Linked DNA regions of Homo sapiens. The protein of the gene in region 1 purifies or fractionates together with the protein of each later gene. This does not show direct contact. Each region holds a gene or a part of one and is shown on either strand. Other genes may lie near its edges. The genes, in order: ADGRG5, LCLAT1, GJA1 and ACVR1B.

Region 1 (7,043 bases):
AAGGCTACACCCTGACCTGTGTCTTCTGGAAGGAGGGAGCCAGGAAACAGCCCTGGGGGGGCTGGAGCCCTGAGGGCTGTCGTACAGAGCAGCCCTCCCACTCTCAGGTGCTCTGCCGCTGCAACCACCTCACCTACTTTGCTGTTCTCATGGTATGTATGCATCCTGAGTGGGGCTCAGAGCTACAGAGGGCCCTGTGTCTGTGGCAGAGGAGCAAGGCAAAAGCTGGTGCAAGGGACAGAAAGTCCAACTGAAATGGGCTTAAGCAAAAAACAAAAAAAACTTTATGGACTCATGTTTCTGGAAAGGCTGGGTTAGGCTTCAGGCATGGCTTGATCCACGGGCTGATCACTAAGATCACTAAGATAGCACTCTATCTTTGTCCCTCAACTGTGCTTGCTCTGTGCTGGCTTAGCCCTCAAATAGGATCTCCTTATGAGATAATAATATAGCTGGCAGCAGTTCCAGGCTCATGCCCTGCTAGCTTTCAGGCCAGTGGAATAAAATCTTCTTTTACCCAGTTCTGCCAGCCATGTGCTCATCCCTGACCCAATCGCTATAGGCAGAAGGAGGGAGGGCCCTGCTTGACCAGGCCTGGCACCCCTTTCTGCACAAAGAGGGCAAAGTGGTGGAACCCCACAGGTGCATAGGGAGTGGGAGAAGGGAGGCACTCATAGAAGAAGAGGGAGATGGGAGATGTGGAGGGGGCAAAACTGACTGTATCTGCCATGGCCTTGTTCAAGCCAGGTCCATGGCTAGGCTTGTGGGGAAGGGGACTTGGAGAGGAGGCCTCAGGAGGTCCCTCTGACTGAGGCTGGGAGGAAGGGCGATACTATGCTTCTGGCCTCCAGCCCCTCTTCCCTCCTGCAGCAACTCTCCCCAGCCCTGGTCCCTGCAGAGTTGCTGGCACCTCTTACGTACATCTCCCTCGTGGGCTGCAGCATCTCCATCGTGGCCTCGCTGATCACAGTCCTGCTGCACTTCCATTTCAGGTATTCCGCTGCCACAGTGCTGGGCCTGCCCTGCACTGTGGCACATCACGCTTCCTTGTGTCCCATTTAGTCCACTAGAACTGGGTGTGCTTCTCCAGAGGGTGGGGACCAGGAGGCGGGAGACCAGCCTTGTGGTGCGACTGCTGTGGGATCCCTGCCCCTTCTTCGCCTCAGTTTCCCTGTCGGCATGCACCTATGCACCCAGTGGGTAGTGCTGCCTGGGTGATGTCCCTGGGCCATGGAGGACCATTCTCTCACCTGCAGGAAGCAGAGTGACTCCTTAACACGCATCCACATGAACCTGCATGCCTCCGTGCTGCTCCTGAACATCGCCTTCCTGCTGAGCCCCGCATTCGCAATGTCTCCTGTGCCCGGGTCAGCATGCACGGCTCTGGCCGCTGCCCTGCACTACGCGCTGCTCAGCTGCCTCACCTGGATGGCCATCGAGGGCTTCAACCTCTACCTCCTCCTCGGGCGTGTCTACAACATCTACATCCGCAGATATGTGTTCAAGCTTGGTGTGCTAGGCTGGGGTAAGCACATCATCTCTCCTCGCCTCCTCAGACTTCCAGGTGGGCAGGGTATTGATCCCCTTTAGTCCTTTCTTTCCCCTCCTCCTCATCGTCATAGTGGCCATTACATGACCACCAGCTGTGAACTCTGTCTACACCCACCTCTACTTTCTATGTTACTAATTTTATCACCTCTTCCACCTCCATCATCATCATCGTCACCTCCTCCACCACCATTATCACCTCCTCCACCTTCATTATCACCATCACCTCCTCCACCTCCTCCACCACCATTATCACCTCCTCCACCTTCATTATCACCATCACCTCCTCCACCTCCATCACCACCATCATCATCTCATCCACCTCTGTTATCGCCATCACCTCCTCCACCTTCATCACCACCATCGTCACCTCCTCCACGTACATCACCACCTTCTTCACCACCATGATCACCTCCTCCACCTCCATCACCACCTCCTCCACCATCATCACCATCATCATCACCTCCTCCACCTCCACCACCTCTTCCACCTCCTTCACCACCACCATCATCTCCTTCACCTCCACCACCACCTCCTCCACCTCCATCACCTCCATCATCACCTCCTCAACCTCCATCATCACCTCTTCCACCTCCATCACCTCCATCACCACCACCTCCACCTCTGTCACCTCCATCACTACCTCCTCCACCTCCATCACCTCCATCACCACCTCCTCCACCTCCATCACCTCCATCACCACCTCCTCCACCATCATCACCTCCATCACCACCTCCTCCACCTCTATCACCTCCGTGATCACCTCCTCCACCTCCGTCATCACCATCATCACCTGCTCCATCTCCTCCACCTCTATCACCACCATCATCACCTCCTCCACCTTCATCATCACCATCACCTCCTCCACCTCCATCACCACCATCACCATCTCCTCCACCTCCGTTATCGCCATCACCTCCTCCACCTTCATCACCACCATCATCACCTCCTCCACGTACATCACCACCTTCTTCACCACCATGATCACCTCCTCCACCTCCATCACCACCTCCTCCACCTTCATCACCATCGTCATCACCTCCTCCACCTCCACCACCTCCTCCACTTCCTTCACCACCACCATCATCTCCTTCACCTCCACCACCACCTCCTCCACCTCCATCACCTCCATCATCACCTCCTCCACCTCCATCATCATCACCTCCACCTCCATCATCTCCATCACCACCACCTCCACCTCCATCACCTCCATCACCACCTCCTCCACCTCCATCAACTCCATCACCACCTCCTCCACCTCTATCACCTCCATGATCACCTCCTCCACTTCCGTCATCACTATCATCACCTGCTCCATCTCCTCCACCTCTATCACCACCATCATCACCTCCTCCACCTCCATCATCACCATCACTTCCTCCATCTCCTCCACCTCTATCATCACCATTATCACCTCCTCTACCTCCATCATCACCATCGCCTCCTCCATCTCCTCCACCTCTATCATCGCCATCATCACCTCCTCCACCTTCATCATCACCATCATCACCTCCTCCATCTCCTCCACCTCTGTCACCACCATCATCACCTCCTCCACCTCTATCACCATCGTCATCACATCCTCCATCTCCTCCACCTCTGTCATCACCATCGTCACCTCCTCCACCTCCATCATCACCATCACCTCCTCCATCTCCTCCACCTCTATCATCATCATTACCTCCTCCACGTCTATCATCACCGTCACCTCCTCCATCTTCTCCACCTCTGTCATCACCATCATCTCCTCCACCTGCACTATCACCATCATCACCTCCATCTCCTCCACCTCCATCAGCACCATCATCACCTCCTCTACCTCCATTACCGCCTTCATTTTCTCTACCTCCTTCACCACCATCACCACCTACTCCACCTCCATCTCCACCATCATCACTTCCTCCACCTTCTCTATCTCCAGCAGCACCATCACTGGTACCTTCATCACCGTCCTTGCCCCTTTCTTGCTTATTTCTATTTCCTCAGCAGTTCCCCAGTCCTCCCTCCCATTTGCTCCCCACCACCACCTTCCCAGTGTGACCACTCCTCCCTCCACCACTGTTCCATCGTAGAGCCGTCACTAACATCATCTTGGAGGAGAGCTTCCTCCAAACCACCAGGCTCATTGCTCTGAAGTTGGGGGCTCACAACAGTCTCCTCTCAGTTGTCCCTTGACCAGTGAAATTCTGTGTCAGCAGCCCCAGGGACCGCCCCAGGGACCGAGGGTCAGCCCTCTCCCACATCTCCTGAGCCTTTGTCCCACCCCTCAGGGGCCCCAGCCCTCCTGGTGCTGCTTTCCCTCTCTGTCAAGAGCTCGGTATACGGACCCTGCACAATCCCCGTCTTCGACAGCTGGGAGAATGGCACAGGCTTCCAGAACATGTCCATGTGAGTGCCCTCAGGGCTGCAGTGGGCTCCCTGGCTCTGGCAGAAGGGCCACATGGGCCTGGGGCTCCAAATGGAATATCCTGTAGGCAAAGCACTGGCTGTGGGGCAGAGAGGGAGCTGGGGCTTAGACAGGGGAGTTTGCAGGGGGCTCCACCACATCCCTTCCATGGATCCAGGTCTCCTGCAGAGGCAGCCTTGTGTTCTATGCTGGTGAAGTCTACGAAGCCAGCGTCTGCTCGCCAACCTGCCAGGGCAGCCGGGCCTCCCGCCTCCTCTGTCCTGCCCTGCCCTCCAGTGCCCAGGCCCTGAGGGTCTGGCTCAGCCTGCACTTGACTCTGTTCCCCTGCAGACCACCTTGCTGCACCTACCCAGGCTCCAACTCCTCCCGACCTGCCCTGGGCACTGCCAGGCCTCTCAAGTCCTCCTAGTCGGACAAGAGTGCTGTGGGGGCTGGGCTTGGGGGAGACAAAGAGAGGCAGCGAGGTGGGCCTTTAGGGGCCGGGGGACACGCTGCTGCTTTTTTTTTAATAGCCCCTCCCTGCAGGCGAGGACGTTAAGCTTTTTATTATTATGCAACATTTCTAATAGCCAGACATAGACTAGCCTAAGGAACCCCCGCGCGCCCATCACTCACTTGCAGTTGGCTGTGGAACCTTTTTCCTTCTTGGCTGATGCAGGCTCAGGATGGGGGCTGATTCTGTGGCAGGCCTTGGGTATCAGCTGGCTTCGTTTTCACAAGGGCAAGGGCCGGGTCCTGTTGCCAGCCCTATTTTACAGTTAGGGCACCTGAGAAACAGGCAGCTTAAGAACTCTACCTGAGGAGCCCTAGCCAGTCAGTGGCAGAGCTGGGGCTTGGTCTCCGGCAGGCTGGTCCAGAGCCTGGCCCCCAGCCCCTGAAGCAGGGCCGGGGGACTGCGTGCTACATAGGTGGGGCTGATCCCTCTCACATTGAGGCTCGGGTGTATCAGAGGACATGTGACTTCAATTTACATGAATTGTTCTCTGCAATCTCCATGACAACCCATAAGGCAAGTACATAATCATCCCCAACCTACAGATGAGGAAATAGAGGCTCTGGCCTCAGTTTACATACTCTCTGAAGATGTATTTTCTTTTTTTTCTTTTTTTTTTTTTTTTGAGATGGAGTTTCGCTCTTGTTGCCCAGGCTGGAGTGCAATGGTGTGATCTCGGCTCACTGCAACCTCTGCCTCCTGGGTTCAAGCGATTCTCCTGTGAGTAGCTGGGATTACAGGCGCGTGCCACCACGCTCAGTTAATTTTTGTATTTTTAGTAGAGACAGAGTTTCAGCATGTTGGCCAGACTGGTCTCAACTTCTGACCTCAGGTGATCCGTCTGCCTTGACCTCCCAAAGTGCTGGGATTACAGGCGTGAACACTATGCCCAGCCTATTTTCTTATATAATAATATGATGAGGACAAAGGAGCTTTAGTGACACGTCCACAGGACCCACTAATGCACAGATGTTAGAGAACACCCACCTACGAGCCAGCTTCTCCCTGGGTCTTCCTCACTCTGCCCTCTCCTCTCAGGAAACAATTACCTTGGGGTTTGTGACTTTTTTTTTTTTTAATTTAAAACATCTCTTACTATGTATATACACATTCCTAAACCCAAACATCAGTTAAAAACCAAAAACAGGCCAGGCGTGGTGGCTCACGCCTGTAATCCCAGCACTTTGAGAGGCTGAGGTAGGCAGATCATGAGGTCAGGAGATCAAGACCATCCTGGCTAACACAGTGAAACCCCGTCTCTATTAAAAATACAAAAAATTAGCTGGGCGTGGTGGCAGGCACCTGTAGTCCCAGTTACTCGGGAGGCTGAGGCAGGAGAATGGCGTGAACCTGGGAGGTGGAGCTTGCAGTGAGCTGAGATCGCCACTGCACTCCAGCCTGGGCGACAGCGAGACTCTGACTCAAACAAACAAACAAATAAAAAACACATCCTGGCCAACATGGAGAAATCCCATCTTTACTAAAAATACAAAAATTAGCCAGACATGGTAGCGGGTGCCTGTAATCCCAGCTACTCAGGAGGCTGAGTCAGGAGAATCGCTTGAACCCGGGAGGTGGAGATTGCAGTGAGCCGAGATTGCGGCACTGCACTCCAGCCTGGAGACAGAGCGAGACTCCGTCTCAAAAAACAAAACAAAACAAATACAACCCTTGAAAATCATTCAGATGTCCACTGACGGGATGCTGGATGAATGGACTGCAGTAGAGCTGCCCCCGTGGGGATATTCCCTAGCGGTGAAAGTGAGTGGTCGCCTACCACACTCATCAACTTGGAGGAATCCCAAAATAATGTCCTGGGACCCTTGTGACTGTAGGGGCAGGAGCCACAAAGTGAACCTCAGCAGGGGATTGTGACAGTTAGGGGCTCAGGCTCTGGGCCTGGGGCTTCAGGATCCAGCTTTGCCTCTAACTGGACTGTGTTCCTGAGCTAGAGCCTGAGTTTCCTCATCTGCAGGATGAGGACGATTATGTACTTGCCTTATGGGTTGTCATGGGGATTGCAGGGGACAAGTCACATAAAGCACATCGTTACTGGTGGAGGGTGTCCAGGTTCTTGGCGTCTTGAACCAAGAATTGGACAAGCCTGGGCATGGTGGCTCGTGCCTGTAATCCCAGGACTTTGGAAGGCCGAGGCAGGTGGATCAACTGAGGTCAGGAGTTCGAGATCAACCTGGACAACACGGTGAAACCCTGTCTTTACTAAAAATACACAAAAATTAGCTGGGCGTGGTGTCAGGATTCTGTAGTTCCAGCTACTCAGGAGGCTGAGAGAGGAGAATTGCTTGAACCTGGGAGGCGGAGGTTGCAGTGAGCCAAGATCACATCACTGCACTCCAGCCTGGTGACAGAGACTCCCTCTCAAAAAAAAAAAAAAAAAAAGGAAAGAGTGAGGCATGAATTAAGCAAGAAAAGCAGAGATTGATTGAAAATGAAAGTACACGCTACAGTGTGGGAGTGGGCCAGAGCATAGGGCCTCAAGAGCCCTATTACAGAATTTGTGGAGATTTAAATATGCTCTAGAGGTTTCCATTGGTTACTTGATGTACACCCTCTGTAAATGAGGAGGATGAAGTA
Region 2 (7,043 bases), on another chromosome or scaffold:
TTGGGAGCGGCCCACCACCATCTTGGGAGTTCTAAGAACAAACACCTGCCAGTAACAGTAAGATAAGAAAGACATAAGGCTATCTCACTAAGTTTGTATAAATTCTAAAATTCAGAATAAGTTTTGTATGAGGTATTAAAAATTTAGTTTATAATTGTAACATCTTTATTTTATAGGCTATTTAAAAATAGGTGTATATTTAACTACAGATGTAATACATGGCTTGAAAAGGAAGCGTAGTGTAACATTTCAGACTGAGTGTGGACTCTGACACCAAGTTACCTGGCTTAAAGTTCCAGTTTTGTTATTTACTAGCTGTGTAGCCTTAAGTAAGTTCCTTAACCCCTTGCTGCCTCAGTATCGTTATATGTAAAATTAAGGTAATGAAAATACCTACATTATGAGATTGCTGTGACTGGTGAACAGGTCGGCATGTAAAATATATGAAACAGTGCCTGAAATATTTTAAAAGCTATATACATTTTAGGTGTTACTATAGTTGAAATAATCCAGAAAATTAGAATTCCCCGTATTATAAGAGAATAGTAAATATTGTCAGATTTTTATATACATAGCATAATTTTTTAAAAATTTATTTAAAAATCTACAAACAGTAAAGTTCACTTTTTTAAAAAATATACTTTCTATGGATTTTCACAAATGTGTATAGTCTTGTGACTGTCAGAGATGTGTGAACTGGAACAAATCCATCTTAAATAGGAGCTGGGTAAAATGAGGCTGAAACCTACTGGGCTACATTTTCAGACAGTTAAGGCATTCTGAGTCACAGGATGAGATAGGAGGTCACCACAAAATTCGGGTCATAAAGACCTTGCTGATAAAACAGGTTGCAGTTAAGGAGCTGGCCAAAACCCACCAAAACCAAGATGGCGACAAGAGTGACCTTTGGTGGTCCTCACTGCTACACTTCCACCAGCACCATGACAGTTTACAAATGCCAGGGCAATGTCAAGAAGTTACCCTATAAGGTCTAAAAAGGGAATGCATGAATAATCCATCCCTTGTTTAGCATATCATCAAGAAATAACCATAAAAATGGGCAACCAGCAGCCCTCAGGGCTGCTCTGTCTGTGGAGTAGCCATTCTTTTATTCCTTTACTTTCTTAATAAACTTGGTTTCAGGTTGCACCGTGGACTCACCCTGAATTCTTTCTTGGGCGAGATCCAAGAACTCTCTTTTGGGGTCTGGATCAGGACAGCTTTGCTGTAATGTGACCTAACTAGGAAATAGAACAGTTTCCTCAACCCCCTAAACTACTTCTTCTTTTTTTTTTTTTTTTTTTTTTTTTTTTTTTTTTGAGAGGGAGTCTCACTCTGTCACCAGGCTGGAGTGCAGTGGCACCATCTTGGCTCACTGCAACCTCTGACTCCAGGTTCAAGCGATTCTTCTACCTCACCCTCCCTAGTAACTGGGATTACAGGCACGCGCCACCATGCCCAGCTAATTTTTGTATTTTTAGTAGAGATGGGGTTTCCTCATGTTGGCCAGGATGGTCTCGATCTCCTGACCTCGTGATCTGCTCCCCTTGGCCTCCCAAAATGCTGGGATTACAGGCATGAGCCACCGCTGGACCAACCCCCTAAACTTATATTGTGTTGTTTCTTTGTAGTCAAACCATCTCCCTACTTGTAATCTTTGCCAACCGCTGATCTGTTTCCTTATCCTTTGGGTTTGCCTTGTCTGGAATGTCATATAAATGAAATAATCCAGTAAAAGATTTTAAAATCATATCTTTTGAGTCTGGCCTCTTTCATTCAGCATAATACATTTGAGATTAACTCAACATGTTGCATGGATCAGTAGTTTGTCGTTATTCTGAGTAGTATGCCATTGTGTGGATGTACTACGGTTTTGTTTATCCATTCTCCCTGACTGACATTTGGCTGGTTTCCAGTTTTTGGTAATTATGAATAATGCTGCTGTGAATAATTACGTATAGGTTTTTGTGTGAATATACATTTTCATTTGTCTTGGATATTCAGTAGAATTTCTGGGTTTTATTGTAAGTGTATATTTAGGATTTTAAGAAACTACCAAACTTTTCCAAAGTGGCCATCCCATTTTGCATTCCCACCAGCAATGTTTGCAAGTTCTGGTTGCTGCATATCCTTGTCAGCTCCTGGTATTGTCAGTGGTTTTATTGTTTTAAAATTTTTTTTTTTAGCTATTCCAAATAAGTGTATAGCTAGCATAATTTGGAACCAAGTTTGTCCATCAAACTCTTGAGACTTGGAAGAAGATAAAGAATAGGGCTGGATTAAATGCAGAGTCACATAGGAGCTCATAAGGAAGAGATGGAGAGACCATCAGATTTGTGAGAGCTTTGCAATTTCTGTCATATTCACTGTTGTAATCCCCAGATGACTAACATAGTGCCTGGCACACGGTAATTGGGATATCTTTGTATGTTTATTGAATCATTGAAAATCAACAAATGATTGAAAGGGAAGGAATAGAAGTAGGATAGAAGTAATTTTAGATTAGATTTGGTCTGAGTAATCCCAGTATATTCATGTGACACACACCTTTCTACCTGCTTAAGTCTGAGTTTAGAGACATATTTCAGGGCTAATTTCTGGCCCCTTCGCAGGAGAAAGAGAGCATGATATAGCAGAAGAAGCAGTAAGCAGAAAAGATTTGATGCTACTAATTTGTTGTGTGGATTTAGGAAAGTCTTCTTAACTCTCCTGAGCCTCAGCTTCATCACTGCATAATGAAAATATTTTATTATATGATAGCTAATTTATTTTTTTTCTGTTAATCACATCAAATCAGAAATTGGTGAGGAAGAAGCATGCCAGAGCCTTGATAAGGGAAGCATTATATATGGATACAACGTGAAGTGTAGCTCTGCAGGGAGTTGAGGGGTGAGTGTTAAACAGAGCTAGCTAATCACTAATTGGCAGAAAAAAAAACAGTAGATAGAAAACGGTAGTTACAGGGTTTCAAACAGAGCAGCAGCGTTGCAGGACTGGGGGGCGGGGTGGGTGTATAAAAGGAAGTAGGCATTAACAATACCAAATTAAGATGTTCGTAGGTTTTTTTTTTTTTTCTGGGGAGAAGCTAGCTATAGTGTCATCAACGCAAAGAGGAGGACCTGAGCCTCAGAGAAAACAAAGTTGAGGATAGGTGGTAACACAGACCACTCTAGGCCCCATGTGTGAGCTCTGGGAATTGTTCAGCATGCTGCTTTCCAGTGGCCTTTTTCTCTACCATTATTACTCCGTTACCCCACTTCTTTAAAGTTTAGGTCTAGAGTTTAGCAAAAAGCCAGCTCTTAGTTGATATTTATTCAGTTTGTACTTTGAAGGATTTTGTACACGTACTGTCAAGTATCAGTAGAAATTTAAAAATAGTCGGCTGGGCACAGTGGCTTACGCCTGTAATCCCAGCATTTTGGGAGGCTGAGGCGAGCAGATCATGAGGTCAAGAGAACCAGACCACCCTGGCCAACATGGTGAAACCGTGTCTTTACTAAAAATACAAAAATCAGATGAGTGTGGTGGCGCGTGTCTGTAATCCTGGCTACTCCGGAGGCTGAGGCAGGAGAATCGCTTGAACCCGGGAGGCAGAGCTTGCAGTGAGCCCAGATCGCACCACTGTACTTCAGCCTAGCGACAGAGTGAGACGCAATCTCAAAACAAACAAACAAACAAAAACTTAGTAGTCAGTCTTGATTGTGTGTTTTAAGGGATTTGACCTGTTTTGTTGTTTGTCTGTCTGACATTTTTCAAAAGCACCATGACGTTTGAAAATGTATTCTGTTTCCTGTTGTGATTCTTTTAAAATATTCAGAGGTCTTGATCTCTCAGATACCTTTTTGCTATATAGATTATAAGGCTGTTTTTTTTTCATCGTTTTAATGTTTCTAAAAATTTTATTCTGAGGCAAAACACAGTTTTTCTCTAACATAGTTTAGGTTGTAAAATCAAATGTTTATTCATTTTAGACTGTGTGTTTCCAACAAGCATTTATTTTAAAACATCTGTATGATGTTCTGGCTATGAGGACCCCCTACAGTAATCCTTTGGAAATAGCCAGTGAAGAGTCTAAGTTCTACTTAATCCTTCAACTCATAAAGAGTCAATTAAAGACCAAGTACCCAAGATGTTATTTTCAGATTCTAATATAAAGAATTAATATTTCTGGATTTTAAAAAATTTCAATGTACTCTGCTAACTTGTCATTGTTTTTAGGTGTATAGTAGTCCCCTCCTTAACCACAGTTTTGCTTTCCATGGTTTGAGTTACCCACAGTCAACTGTGGTTTGAATGTTATATGGAAAATTCCAGAAATAAACAACTGATGGGTTTTAAATTTGTGTGCCATTCTGAGTAGCAGGATGAAATCTGATGCCATGCCTCTCTCGTCGCATCCAGGACGTGAATTATCCCTTTGTCCAGTGCATTGATACAATATATGCTATGCTACCTGCCTCTTAGTCCCTTAATAGCAGTTTCGGTGATCAGATTGACTGTCGAGGTATAGCAGTGCTTGTGTTCAAGGAACCTTTATTTTACTTAATACTTTATTAATAATAGTTATTAATCTCTCACCACGCCTAATTTGTAAGTTAAACTTTATCATGGTATGTATGTAATGTATATGTAGGGTTTAGTACTATCTGTGATTCAGGCATCTACTGGGGGTCTTGGAATGGATCCAAAGTGGGGACCGTTGTACTCAACTTAGGAAACTCATCTGTAGTTTTTAGTCAATTGCTTCTACTTCTGGGTAGGAAAAAACTCTGGAATATTTTATGAGTTTGTGTTAGATAACACCTTAGAAAAGAAAATATATGGTTTTATGTTAAAAAAAAAAGGCTTCTTAAACTAGATAACTCTTTTTGGAGGTCAGATATTTGCTCTGTTGAGAGTATCAGTTTCTTTTTTTTTGAAACTGTCTCATTCTGTCGTCCCAGCTGGAGTGCAGTGGTGCGATCTTGGCTCACTGTAACATCTACCTCAGCCTCCCACGTAGCTGGGATTACAGGCACACTACCGCAGCTGGCTAAGTTTTGTATTTTTAGTAGAGATGGGGTTTCACCATGTTGGCCAGGCTGGTCTCGAACTCCTGGCCTCAAGTGATCCACCTGCTTCAGCCTCCTAAAGTGCTGGGATTGCAGCGTGAGTCGCCGCACCCGACCAGAGAATATCAATTTCTAATGTACTGGCAACTTGTTAGACCAGTAGAGCATGTAGGAGGGTCACCTCTTTGAAATTCAGACTCTTATATTGTTTCTTAGAGCCTTTCTGTAGCCCTAAAATTAGTGATCATTCTATGCTCCATCATCCTGAAATTGAATTCGAGCCGTTAAATGTATAGTAACAAAATATATCCTTTTTTATATCTTTCAGAATCATGGTGTCATGGAAAGGGATTTACTTTATACTGACTCTGTTTTGGGGAAGCTTTTTTGGAAGCATTTTCATGCTGAGTCCCTTTTTACCTTTGATGTTTGTAAACCCATCTTGGTATCGCTGGATCAACAACCGCCTTGTGGCAACATGGCTCACCCTACCTGTGGTAAGTTACACACCAGAGGAGACTGTCTGCTTGTACTAGAGTGCTCCCCACCCCTGATAGATACCTAAATCCATGGATGTTCAAGTCCCTACAGTATTTGCACATATCCTAGGCACATCCTTCTGTATGCTTTAAATAATCTCTAGATTGCTTATAATACCGACTACAACGTAAATGCTATGTAAATAGTTGTTATTGTTAGGGAATTGTATTGCTTAGGGAATGACAGGGAAAAAAAATCTGTGCATCCTCAGTACAGGCTTAGCCATCCTTTTTTCCCATGAATATATTTGATCCATGATTGGTTGAATTCACAAATGCTGAACGCAGGGATGTGGAGGGCTGCATGTATTTTGCTGTGTTCCATTGGGCTTCTTAGATAGATAGGTTGGTTGGTTTTTATATTTTTTTAACTGGGAAATTTTAGACTGTTATTTTTTTCACATTTTTTTCTGCCTTATTCTCTCTCTCCTCATTTTGGGACTACAATTATATGTATGTTAGATTGATTGTCTTGTCACGTATGTCACAAAGGCTCTCTTCCTTTTTTCTTCCCCTGTATTTTTTCCCTGTATTTTTCATATTGAATGATTTCTGTTTATCTGTTTTCAAGCTCAATGACCCTTTCTTCTATCATCTTTAATCTGCTGTTTTGTTCATCTAGTGAATTTTTATTTAAAATACTGTAAGTTCTGGAATTTATTTTGGGTTCTTTATTGGTTCTGTTACTTTCTTGAGATTTCTCATCTATTTATTAATTATAGCCATATTTTCCTTTAAGTCAGCTGGATGATGTCTAGTACCTTTTACTCTGTCAGGGCCAGTCTTTTAGGCAAAATTTCTTCTTGCTTTTTTAATATAAGTATGCTTTGTTTTGTGATTGGATTGCAAGAGTAGTTGGCAGGATCTCTTAATGTTCATCCAGCAATTTTTTATTGTCTACCACGTACCTAGCATTTTGCTAGGATGCAGTGATGAACAGGACAGATATGATCTCTGTCCTTGAGGAGATAATAGTCCTCTACCTAAAATATCTTATCCTAATTGTAGATTTACAGAGCTTGACTAATTTCTTTTCTGGCTTTCATGTGACTAAAAGTCTTTTTCTTTTTTTAGAGGACAGAAGTTGACTTCTAAGACTATTAATTTTTAGAGTTACATTTTTAAATTAGCTTTAAAGATATGAAGCCCAGTGTTTCATTGCAACCCTAAACATACCATTTGCCATAAAATACTCATTTTTTGTTGCTGCTTAACCACTATCACTCTCTATTTACAAGGTGGGTATTTCTCTATATACATATATTAAGTAAAATAAGAATACTGTTCAGTTTATGTAATATTAATCATCACAAGTAGATACTTCTAAAACGTCATCTACAAACTGTATGTTAAGTAATTTTGCTGTCATCATAAAATCAGAGACATTTCCTATTGAAACATTTGACTGTTTTCATGTCATTTATGTAACTATTTTTAGTGTTTGTTTCATCAT
Region 3 (4,582 bases), on another chromosome or scaffold:
TTCAACACTTTATCTTCCTTTTGGTTCAATAAATATCCAAAAATGTTTACAATTTATGTTGCACTGAACAGAGCTAATGATAAATATTGTCCCTGAAAACATGACTGTTATTTGCTGAAGTTCTGATAACCAATAGAAATGTGTTTAAATAATCTCAAATAGATGCCGTCAATGAGTTTTAAATATAGGCCAGGTGCGGTGGCTCACCCCTGTAATCCCAACACTTTGGGAGGCTGAGGTGGGCGGATCACGAGGTCAGGAGTTCCAGACCAGCCTGGCCAACATGGTGAAACCCCATCTCTACTAAAAATACAAAAATTAGCCAGGTGCGGTGGCGGTGCCTGTAATCCCAGCTATTCGGGAGGGTGAGGCAGGAGAATTGCTTGAACCCGGGAGGCAAGGGTTGCAGTGAGACGAGATCGCGCCACTGCACTCCAGCCTGGGTGACAGAGCAAGACTCCATCTCGGCAGGGGAAACAAATCACACGGAATATAGAAGCTATGTTTATACTAAATTAAAACTTTATTGAATAAAGAACACTCTCCAGAACACATGATCTGATGGACTAGGTCTACATTACATGCAATGAAGCTGAACATGACCGTAGTTTAACATGGAATGTCAAACAAATTAGTAATTTTCATTGTACAAAACTGTTTATGTAGCTGACATGCATGCAAGAAGAAAAGTGTCATACTCAGCATTTTCACCAATCTTCTGTGATGAGTTTTAAAAAAGGCATTTGGAGAAACTGGTAGATGTCTTCAACATATAGTTCAAATAAATTAGTTGTATGTGTACTACTGAATCCTCTTTCAACCTCTCTTGCATTCCAAATAAAATCTTAGTGCAAACATCAAAGTTGCTGGTCACTCCAAAAGACTGCTAAACTCATAATAGAATACAAGTTCTGAATTACTGTGTATTAAGTAGGAAAACCCAAGAATACCAGTTACTGCAAAATTCATTTAGGCACATTTAATAGTCCACTCTAAGCATTTTTTCTAAGTCTCTCACATTAATGACTAAAGCCTGTTTACAGTACTAAAATTCTATCATTCAAGCATCAATGATTACATTTCAGAAAAAGGAAATTCATTTCAGTAATAGCATTACTGCTATATCCTAAAAAAAGGAGAGAAAATAAAGAATCATAATTAACAAAACCAGTATCCATAATAGGATACACAGGGAAAAACATTTTAGGAGAAAAAAAAAGTGTGCTTTACTTGCCACAGCAGGAATTATATAATGTAAACACCATATTGGCCCACACCACAAAAATCCATGAGAAAGGTTCAAATTTGAACACCATATGTGCATTATTTTCAAATCTGTGTTTGTGAGTTTATACTGTATCTGCTTGTACCAATACATGACAAACAAAACAAACTCTTCGACACACATATAAGTGATTGTTAAATATTAAGCATGGCTTGATTCCCTGACTTTAGCTCAAAAAAAAAATGTTAAGTGACATCCCAACTGTCTTAAAAATGTTTACAGAAACCATTAAATGAATGTGAGTAGTAGCTGAGGAATGATGAAAAAGTGATGGTAATGATATTGTGCAAGTGGATGGAAAAAGAATATACGTATTTGCAAATGCATGGAAAATCTTATTCTGTGGGCCTTGTCTGAATTTTAAACTGATACCAAGAATAAAAAAATATAGTAGCACAAGTCCATTGACACCTGGAGGGTCAGGCCTAGAAAGCTTACCTTCAAAGTGCAAATTTTAACAATGGAATGTTTTAGCAGGGACTTAAGGACAATCCTCTGTCTTTTTCTTGTTGAAAAGACCTAAGATGTTCAGGAAGTATTTATTCCTGGCCAGAATTATTTCAGTTTCTTGGTAAAACAAAAATATTTAGCCACAATTACCACCCGCTCATTCACATACACAGAACCATTCTTAGGGGTGTTTGCGGGGAGAAAAAGCCCTTATCTATGTATCACCTAATGGAACTCTTATTTATAATCTAAGTTCTTTGAATCCACTACTTTAAATACCAACATGCACCTCTCTTATCCCCTCCCTCTCCACCCATCTACCCCATACACCCCCAGTGAACCTAGGTATTCTAATGTCTTTGTGTTTTCTAAGCCTCATGAATAAGGCTGTTGAGTACCACCTCCACCGGATCAAAATTAACACCTGGTGCACTTTCTACAGCACCTTTTTTCTTCTCCACAATTGAGTGGAATCTTGATGCTTTCAAGCCTGTATCTAGATCTCCAGGTCATCAGGCCGAGGTCTGCTGCTGGCACGACTGCTGGCTCTGCTTGAAGGTCGCTGGTCCACAATGGCTAGTGGCTGTAATTCATGTCCAGCAGCTAGTTTTTTAGAATTCTGGTTATCATCGGGGAAATCAAAAGGCTGTGCATGGGAGTTAGAGATGGTGCTTCCCGCCTGCCCCATTCGATTTTGTTCTGCACTGTAATTAGCCCAGTTTTGCTCACTTGCTTGCTTGTTGTAATTGCGGCAAGAAGAATTGTTTCTGTCGCCAGTAACCAGCTTGTACCCAGGAGGAGACATAGGCGAGAGGGGAGCGGTTGGTGAGGAGCAGCCATTGAAATAAGCATATTTTTGAGACCCACAGTCTTTGGCAGGGCTCAGCGCACCACTGGTCGCATGGTAAGGGTCGCTCTTTCCCTTAACCCGATCCTTAACGCCCTTGAAGAAAACATAGAAGAGTTCAATGATATTCAAGGCCAGGGACACCAAGGACACCACCAGCATGAAGATGATGAAGATGGTTTTCTCCGTGGGGCGAGAGAGGAAACAGTCCACCTGATGTGGGCAGGGATCTCTTTTGCAAGTGTAAACAGCACTCAAGCTGAATCCATAGATGTACCACTGGATCAGCAAGAAGGCCACCTCAAAGATAGACTTGAAGAGGATACTGATGATGTAGGTTCGCAGCAACCCCCCTCGCATTTTCACCTTACCATGCTCTTCAATACCGTACTTGAACTTCTTTATCTCAATCTGCTTCAAGTGCATGTCCACATTGACACCATCAGTTTGGGCAACCTTGAGTTCTTCCTCTTTCTTGTTCAGTTTCTCTTCCTTTCGCATCACATAGAACACATGAGCCAGGTACAAGAGTGTGGGTACAGACACAAATATGATCTGCAGGACCCAGAAGCGCACATGAGAGATTGGGAAAGACTTGTCATAGCAGACATTTTCACAACCAGGTTGCTGAGTGTTACAACGAAAGGCAGACTGCTCATCTCCCCAGGCTGACTCAACCGCTGTCCCCAGCAGCAGGATTCGGAAAATGAAAAGTACTGACAGCCACACCTTCCCTCCAGCAGTTGAGTAGGCTTGAACCTTGTCAAGGAGTTTGCCTAAGGCGCTCCAGTCACCCATGTTGCCTGGGCACCACCTGAAAGAAACAAAGAGACAATTCAAGGATCACAGATTGCAAATTACTAGTTTAACATTTAGTACCTTTCAGGTGATAGTCAAAATACTACCAACGGTTTCACGTATTTCTAACATTCTTTCACAAAAAACCAAGTGCAAACTCTTCCTGTCCCATTTTTGCCAACGAAGAAAAGATCTAACAAGTGTTTTGTTTTGTTTGTTGAGACAAAGTAAGTCTTAGAAGCAACAGATGATGAGTTGCAGTCTTTAACCTGGGAAGGTGTATTGCTTGCTCAACCACTGCCTTGCTGTGTGACTTGAGAAGCCACCTGTGCTAAGCCTCTGCTCCTTTTATTTGTCTGATAAATGAGGACAGTTTTTGCCTGGTAGATCTGTGTTTGCTAAGCAAAATCCTGATGTGTGTTATTCAAAGCATAGGTATCAAGAATCCAGGTAAGAATACCTATAAACACACATCCATAACCTTCTTTCCAAAACCTTAATGCTATTATATATCATTTTATTACTAATTTCACTCTGAAAGATTTTTTTTTTAAGATGGTGTTTCCCTCTTGTTGCCCAGGCTGGAGTGCAATGGCACAATCTCAGCTCACCACAACTTCCGCCTCTTAGGTTCCAGCGATTCTCCTGCCTCAGCCTCCTAAGTAGCTGGGATTACAGGCATGTGCCATCACGCCTGGCTAATTTTGTATTTTTAGTAGAGATGAGGTTTCTCCATGTTGCTCAGGCTGGTCTCGAACTCCTGACCTCAGGTGATCCATCTACCTCAGCCTCCCAAAGTGCTGGGATTACAGGTGTGAGCCACCACGCCTGGCCTCTGGAAGATTTTTCAATGGTATATCAAGTGTAATTTGTGCATACCCTATATTATTGTCATTTACACTTTTCTGTTTCTTTTTTTAGAGATAGGATTTCACTATGTTGCCCAGGCCCCTGGGCTCAAGAAATCCTCCTGCCTTAGCCTCCCAAGCAATGGTGACTATTTTTTTCTTAAGCAGTGACTTATGTAGCTCAGAAGTCAGCCTTCTGTCCAGAGAAAAAGTAGGCTGTATGGAAATATACTCTTTTGCTACAATGTGTCATTATATGTAGTAACCTACTTTGAAAAACAAAGACTAAATACACATCACACTTCATGTAAAAAGTTCATTTTGTCTCAATACTACTCACAGCCTTATTAAAAA
Region 4 (7,661 bases), on another chromosome or scaffold:
GTGATTCTCCTGCCTCAGCCTACCAAGTAGCTGGGATTATAGGTGCCCACCACCATGCCCAGCTAATTTTTGTATTTTTAGGGGTTTTGCCATGTTGGCCAGCTGGTCTTGAACTCCTGACCTCAGGTGATCCACCTGCGTTGGCCTCGCAAAGTGCTGGGATTACAGGCGTGAGCCACTGCGCCCAGCCAAGGAACTAATTTTCTTTTTCCCAAACCTGCCCATTCTAGTCTGCTGAATGAAACTACCAGGCAGCTAGTCACCTAAGATTATCCTAGAGTCATATGGGGCCATCCCCTTTCCTCATTTCCCGTATCCAATCAATCTTGTCATTTCTACGTCTTTGAACTCTTGAATCTGTTTCTCTTTTCCACCTTCACATTGCTGCTGCCTGGGGTCAGGTCCACCTCCTATCTTGCCTGGGCTTTGCCTTCTCTTTGGTTTCCTTACAACCAGTCTTGTCTTCCTCCAACCAGCCTCTGTACAAAGTTCAAATTCACTTGGTTCAGCAAAGTGATCTTCCTAACACAATATGATCAGTTTACAAATATGATCAGTTTAGCCTTTCCTAAAATACAAACATGATCAATTTACACTTAGAACCCTTCCAAGTGTACTGAAGAGGGTCTCTTATTAGACTCCCACTCCAGTGTGCTCCATTTCCAAGTAGACTTCCACGTCTGCCTAGCTCACCAACATTACGTTTCCACTGTCCATCATCTTCAGCCTGCATCTTCTGGGTGTACCGCTAGGCTGCTCACGGTTCTCCTAAATGCCAGGCAGAACAGTCTCCTGCCATCTCCTGCCCTCCTGACACAGGCCTATCTGGGGGGACTCTCTGATCTTCCAAGAATCAGCGTAGCCTGTCTCTTCGTGAAAACTTTCTCAACTCCTCAGCCTGTCCCCTCACAGCTGAATCATTCATGTCCCCTGAGTGGCCCTCATTGGCTCTTTACAGGCTTGTGTCCTCGCAGAGATAACCCGTTGTTGCTCTTTTTCTCATGCTTTTCTGTATTAGATTTTAAGTTCCATGAAGGCGAGGACTATGACTTATCCATGTCTATATGTTGTGCCTGGTGTACTGTAGGTGCTTAGTGCTTGTGGAATGGATGAGTGAAGATGAACTATTGCCTTCTTGGGATGAATGACCCTGCTGCTCACCAAGGCAAATGATCCCCTAGGTAGTGGTGTCTCTGTGCGTTGCGACCAATGTGGCAATTGTCACACTGAGTTGTCACTCTAGTCAGTGGGACTAAGGAGTAAGACTTTTTCCTGGAGAAGTGGCTCCTGCTAGCTCTGGGGACTCTCCTGACAAAGAGACAGGGCAGAGGGGAAAAGAAGTTCATAGACTGTGATGTGGGTCCAGCCCTAAGATTAAGACGGTTTACAAGGCCAGGCACGGTGGCTCACGCCTGTAATCCCAACACTTTGGGAGGCCGAGGCAGGCAGATTACGAGATCAGGAGTTCGAGACCAGCCTGACCAATGTGGTGAAACCCTGTCTCTACTAAAAATACAAAAATTAGCCAGGCATGGTGGCGCATGCCTGTAGTCCCAGCTACTTGGGAGGCTGAGGCAGAAGAATCGCTTGAACCCAGGAGGCGGAGGTTGCAGTGAGCCGAGATCATGCCACTGTACTCCAGCCTGGGAGACAGAGCGAGACACCGTCTCAAAAAAGAAAAAAAAAGAAAAAGAAAAAGAAAAAAAAGAAGGCTTACGAAAATGGACACTTACCGGGGCCTTCAGGGATGGTGAGGAGAACTAGCAGGAAGCATCCTTGGGCCAGGCTGTGGGAAGGAGCGAAGGGCACAGGTAGGGATTAGGCAGTCTCTATGTAGCGCGGGACCTAAAAGGAAGGTAGACACATCACCTAGGAAAGCTCTAGTTTGGAGATGCCCCAAACTCTCACAAATGGGGTGTGAGGCATATGATTAACCCCTCCCCTGCTCCACCTCATTTTCCACCTTCAGCTGGGTCCTGAAGACCAGTACCTAGAAAAGCAGGAGATGCTATGGTGTTGAAGAAAGCACAGGACCAGTAGGCTGTGGCTTTAATGATGGATTGTATGTGAGCCTTGGCAAATCGCTTACCTTCTCTAAGTCTCAGTCACTTCATCGGGGCACACTCTGACATGCCTCAACCACTTCCTAGGATTGTAGTGAAGGTCAACTCATAATGATGATAATAGCTATTCTTTTTAGATCACTTCCTATGTGTCAGAGATTATGCTAAATGCTTTACCATATTTTATCAATACTAACAATATCTGTATGACATAGAACTATTATTAGCTCCATTTTACAAGATGAGTAAATTGAGGTTTAGGGAGGTAAAGTATCTTGCCCAAAGTTCAATGCTGTCAAGTGAGCTGATGGAGCTGACGGAGGTGGCATTTGGTCTGTGGAGCCAGCATTCTGGTTCCCTGATCTGTATATTTAGCTGTGTGGCTGACTTTACTGTCTAGGAGTGAAGCAACCACAGGTCCCCTCTGGGACCCCTGGCCTCGAAGCCACAGTGGCAGCACTTAGCAAGAAATAAGGAAAGATACCTCCCTCCCCCCTGGCTTCAGATATGTGCTCCTGAGGGGTTGGCTTTCCCTTCTTAACTGCAGGGGTTGGTGACTGTACTGGGTTGAATAGTGTCCACCCAAAATTCGTGTCTACCAGGAACCTGCGAATGTAATCTTACTTGGAACGAGGATCTTAGCAGCAGATGTAACCAATTAAGATCATTTGCACTCATACTGGATTAGGGTGGGCCCTAATCCAATGACTGGTATCCTTATAAGAAGAGAGGAATGTGGACAGAGATGTAGATGCAGAGGGAAGATAACCATGTGAAGACATGGGGTTATGCTTCCGCAAACCAAACAACACCAAGGATCCTGGGAACCACCAGAAGCTAGAAGAGGCAAGGAAGGATTCTTCCCTAGAGCCTTCAGAGAGCACATGGCCCTGCCAACACCATGGTTTCAGATTTCTAGCCTCCAGAACAGTGAGAGAATACATTTGTATTTTAAGCTACCCAGTTTGGTAGTAGGAAACTAACACAGTAACCTAGCACTGTGTGCACCACAGCTTGGTGGATAGAGCATGGATTGGAAACCACTTAGACGGACTGGGTGGGGTGTGCCTATTTGGGGGAGATGAGGGAGAGGAGAATAAGTTATTTACTCATCCAGCTACACTGACCAACTTGTAGACAATGCCTCCCCATGACTTTATGTGATTGTGTGTACACTGTGTCTGGCGAGTGTGTCTTCAGCTTTATTTTTTCCGGATATGACGATGGGAGTTCTTCAGGTTGGTGAAACTTAGAAGGTGAGAATTCCATTTAAGCAACTGTTCTCCCTATCTCTTGGCCATCCTTTCCACCCCTAGATCTCAGATGGTGAAGCTGTGCTTAGAGAGGTTCAAACCTTGCCCAAGTTTTCACAGCTAGTTAGTAGGAAGCAGAATTCAGATCCAGAATTCTCTGGCTGCAAAAATTCTGCCCTTTCCTTTATATCAAGTTCTTTCTCAAGCTAAAGAAACTGACCTCTTTTCAGAAAGATACGGAGTGATTTGTTTACTTTCTTAAGCATTTCTTCTAGATTTGAAAGTAACATTTATTTGAAAAATATTTAGAAATTATTGAAATGTTAAAAGTAAAAAAATTATGGCAATAACTACTGTTACTATTGGGTAAATATCCTTCCAGTCTTTTTTTCCTATAAACACATATTATCAGTACAATTTGAATAATACTGTAAACAGTGTTGCATTTTGCTTTTTTAATTTAACATTATCTTGTAAGCATTTTCTCATGTCAATAGTTTTTGTAAACAGGATTTTAAATTACTAAATAATGTTCCATCATATGGATGGGCCATAATTTAACATTTTCTATTATTGTCTACTTAGTTTCTACCTTTTTTACAATGATAAATATACAGTTAACATTTTTCATAAACATCTGTCCTCTTATTATTTCTTGAGGACAGGGGACAATACTGGGTAAATGGATATGAAGATTTTAAGGCATTTGATGCATAATGCCAATTGTTTACCAAAAGGGTTCTACCTACCAGCCCAATCAGAGTGCCTCACACGGCACCCTCACCCATACTGTCATCAATAAAGAGCTTTGCTATGTTCTGAAAAGGCGCGTGCCGCGATTCCATCACACAGGCTGCCGCGTCCAGAGGATGGCAGGGGGCGAGGCGAGGCAGGGAAACCAGTTAGGAGACCGCGGCGATGATCCCAGGGGACGCGCTGGGGGCTTGAGGCTAGGCGCAGGGATGGAGGAACTGGAACACGCACGGGATTCGTAGAATATTCGACGGGGGCGGGGGATCGACTCTGATAAGATAATTCTGCACTGCGTGGGGTGCAGGAGAGGGAGGAGACTGCACGTTCGGCTCCGGCCTCCTCCGCGCCGGGCTCGGCACCGATCCGCGAAGTTGGCCGAGGCGTGAGCCCCGCCCACCCCTTTAACAGGGACACTCCCCTTTAAGGCGGGCGCCCGCGCGCGCCCCGGCCCCGCCCTTCGGGGGCGCGCGCGGCGGCCGCGGCGCCGGCTCCGCCGGGAGCGCACGTGCAGGCGCCGGGCGGAGGAGAGGGAGGCGGGAGCCGGGCCGCGGGAGGAGGGGAGGCGCCGGGGGCGCGCGCGCGCGCGCTGGGCGCTGCTGGGCTGCGGCGGCGGCGGCGGCGGCGGTGGTTACTATGGCGGAGTCGGCCGGAGCCTCCTCCTTCTTCCCCCTTGTTGTCCTCCTGCTCGCCGGCAGCGGCGGGTCCGGGCCCCGGGGGGTCCAGGGTGAGTCCTGGGACGGGGGGCGGGGGCCGGGATGGAGAGGGCCCGGCAAGGGCGAGGCCTCGAGCCGCGGCCGCTGGACTACAGCGCGCCCCCTCCCCACGAGCACAATATGGCCGGGTGGGGGGCGCAGAGGAGTCGGGGTGACCCCCAGTCAGCTTCCCCGATCTCCGAGGCGCAGCCGCCCGGCGGCGACGGAGCTCACGCCGGGCCCCTGGGGACCCGAGCCCTGTTCCAGGCGGAACTGGATTCGGGCAGTTCTCAGGGGTCGCGCTCCCAGCGCCCTCGTGTTCCAGAGAGGGGAGTCTGAGCCTCCAGCTCCAAGATTTGGAGGTCCGTGGTTTCTGCCCTTCACCGTGTCCAGGGGCGGGGGGCTTTCTTCCCTCCCTCCAGGTGCTCCTGGGGGGCGTCTTTCTCCCGCCAAGACTGTGGGGTTCGGGCGGTGGGGTCTTAGCCTCTCCGAGGGAACCTGATGTTGAGAGTCCGCGCACCTCAGACTGTAGGGGAAGGGGTCTCTAACCTTTCCTTCAGGTCCTGCACTTGGCGTGTTTCTTCCCCTCCCTCCACTGCCTCCCTAATGTTCTGGGAAAGGGAGTCACATTTCCCCTTCACTCAATCCCTTGAGTTCAGTGGGGCAATCCCCCCTCCGCCCTCCGGCACTCATGCCCCGTGGAGGCTATTTGGAGGAAGTGGGACGAACAGGCCCCTAAACCTTTTTGGAGCCTGGCTTTGGAATCCCTAACCCTATGGAACCGAGTTCCCCAAGGGTTGATGTGAATCTAGGTGTATTTGCTTTCCTCCTCGCCTCCCCCACCCTACCCCGGGGGGCCCATTCAGTTAATCACTTTGTGGATGCCTTTCAGGTGAAATCCTGGAACCTGTCTCCAAACCCCCAAGATTATTTAAAGATCCCACCACTGGACTGTATTCCCGGCCCTTGGTCAGTACTTATTTACCTTCCTACACGATGCCTCTTCCCAGCCCGCCCACCCTCACACACCCCTTACCTCCCAATCCCCACAGTCTGCGGCTCGCCTTATACCACCCCCCCACTCTCCTCTCTGTAGAAGCGGGTACCTTTTTGCGGGACACTTCGCTGGCTGTGTTGTTTTTGAGGCTTTGGGGGCTGAGAAGAGCAGATGAAACCCTAAAATATTTCATTTAAGAGAGTCTTGGCGAATGTGTTTTGGCCTTGGGGTAGCAGATGAAGGTTATATTTGGCAGTTATATTGAAGCGATTATTGACCCACAGATGGATCTGGGAGAGATGATCAGGATTGTATTCGCTCCTGACGTACAAAGCCTGATGCTTTGACTTCTCAGCAGCCCCTAACCTTCCAGCAATGGGAGATAAAGTGTGTTCTGTGGCTCTCTTCTCTTACACTAAAAATAATGATTCTCAGGTGGGTTCAGTCGTCTTTAATAAACCAGACAGTCAAGAAAAGACACCATGCCACTTTGGAATCTCAAAAACAAGTTCATTATCTCCGGCTTTGATATTTGTTCCCAGTGGTGGAGCCTGTGCAGCGGGGTCTTTGTTCACGGGCTAATGCTTCTCCTAAGCACCTCGTGTGTGTTCTTCGGCCTCACTGCTCTGTGGCTTAGGTATCTGTGCTGTGGGGTTTGAGAAACATGGTGAAGGTGTATGAACAGAGCTTGACATTTGTGGTGAGATAATGATTTGCATGAATAAGGATGTTCGTCGGGCCTTATTAAGGGCCATGTTTTTGGAATGTGTAACATAATGTTCTCTACTGGGTAGTAAAAAAAAAAAAAAAGGGAGATTGAACCTCTAGGTTTGTCATTTTATGTGTGTATGTATAAATCTTTAAATCCTCATATAGGAATTTTTATCCTGCCCCTAATATATCCAGGATTTTTAACAGTCATTTCCCTGCTGATTTGATGTAGTGTTTGTGGGGTTTTTCTGGTTGTGAGCCTAGTTAAGAATGTTTGATAATCCAAGTGGTTCTGAATGGGGCAGAGTTCATTTTTTTGTAACCTTCCTAAAATGGATGTTTGTGGGGGTTAAGGTGGGTGAGTAAAATAGGGAGTTCGTTTCTTTTTTTGGTAAATTGGAAATTAGGTTGTGTGTCCAGCAAACATTCTCCAGGGCCTTTAAACTTCTTGGCCAGACACTACAGTTTTTTCCAGGACACGTCTAGTTGCCAATAGTGTATGCTATGGAGACCACTGCTGCAAAGGGCTTAAAGTAAAACGTCAGTTCTGGGAAAATAGAGGCTGTGGGATAACAAGAAGTTGATTTTTTTCCCCTCCCCTGCATTTCCTATATAGTGCTCCCCTACGTGGGCTGGAGGAGTGACAGAGCCAGACAGCTCTGATGCCTGATACTTGGACTTGATGTGAGGGGCAGTAAGGGATAGGTGTTTCTATTAATTAATGAATTAACTAGGACTTAGTAAAAGGCCAGTGATAAGGAGAATGAGTTTCAGTTAGAAATAGCATCCGTTTGATAGGTGTACATGTTTTAAGGCCTGGCTTTGGAATTTTCACATTTAAAAATGTAAAATTGAGTTAGTAGCAGGAGAACATGACATTCATTTCTCAAGACAAAAGCAACAAGAGAGATATTTGACATTCTCATAGGAACATTTTGAAATTTTGTGAGCGGACTAAAAATCTAATTTCAAGCCAAGCCTTGTAATTTTGTTGAGTGGACATGGATTTTAAGTACAGTGGAAGTGCAGTCTTGTAGAGACCTCTGATTAGTTTTGTTTAAACAGCTCCTGGAACAGATGTGATAAAACATATTAAAATGGCTACTCTGGTTAAAGGTTAAAGCCAGATGGAGGGAGGAGGCTGGTTTTCAGCCCTAGAACTTAGCTGCCTTACAAGTTGTCCTTGAACAAG

Evidence for each region.
Region 2: the proteins of ADGRG5 (region 1) and LCLAT1 purify together in Homo sapiens (co-immunoprecipitation; 3 studies listed by BioGRID and IntAct, with this or other methods). This does not show direct contact.
Region 3: the proteins of ADGRG5 (region 1) and GJA1 purify together in Homo sapiens (co-immunoprecipitation; 3 studies listed by BioGRID and IntAct, with this or other methods). This does not show direct contact.
Region 4: the proteins of ADGRG5 (region 1) and ACVR1B purify together in Homo sapiens (co-immunoprecipitation; 3 studies listed by BioGRID and IntAct, with this or other methods). This does not show direct contact.

What each region holds. Positions count from the first base shown.
Region 1 is NC_000016.10:57,566,600-57,573,642, forward strand, and holds part of ADGRG5 (adhesion G-protein coupled receptor G5 isoform 1 precursor), read left to right. Parts: coding exon 1-152; exon of another isoform or gene 153-870; coding exon 871-992; exon of another isoform or gene 993-1,250; intron 1,251-1,256; coding exon 1,257-1,525; intron 1,526-3,818; coding exon 3,819-3,936; exon of another isoform or gene 3,937-4,034; intron 4,035-4,570; exon of another isoform or gene 4,571-4,722; intron 4,723-7,043. UniProt on the Homo sapiens protein: Orphan adhesion G-protein coupled receptor (aGPCR). Ligand binding causes a conformation change that triggers signaling via guanine nucleotide-binding proteins (G proteins) and modulates the activity of downstream effectors, such as adenylate cyclase.
Region 2 is NC_000002.12:30,520,208-30,527,250, forward strand, and holds part of LCLAT1 (lysocardiolipin acyltransferase 1), read left to right. Parts: intron 1-5,379; coding exon of another isoform or gene 5,380-5,383; coding exon 5,384-5,548; intron 5,549-7,043. UniProt on the Homo sapiens protein: Exhibits acyl-CoA:lysocardiolipin acyltransferase (ALCAT) activity; catalyzes the reacylation of lyso-cardiolipin to cardiolipin (CL), a key step in CL remodeling.
Region 3 is NC_000006.12:121,445,646-121,450,227, reverse strand, and holds the end of GJA1 (gap junction alpha-1 protein), read right to left. Parts: intron 3,397-4,582; 5' UTR 3,381-3,396; coding exon 2,232-3,380; 3' UTR 501-2,231; downstream 1-500. UniProt on the Homo sapiens protein: Gap junction protein that acts as a regulator of bladder capacity. A gap junction consists of a cluster of closely packed pairs of transmembrane channels, the connexons, through which materials of low MW diffuse from one cell to a neighboring cell.
Region 4 is NC_000012.12:51,947,042-51,954,702, forward strand, and holds the start of ACVR1B (activin receptor type-1B isoform a precursor), read left to right. Parts: upstream 1-4,657; 5' UTR 4,658-4,702; coding exon 4,703-4,793; intron 4,794-5,653; exon of another isoform or gene 5,654-5,730; intron 5,731-6,342; exon of another isoform or gene 6,343-6,458; intron 6,459-7,661. UniProt on the Homo sapiens protein: Transmembrane serine/threonine kinase activin type-1 receptor forming an activin receptor complex with activin receptor type-2 (ACVR2A or ACVR2B).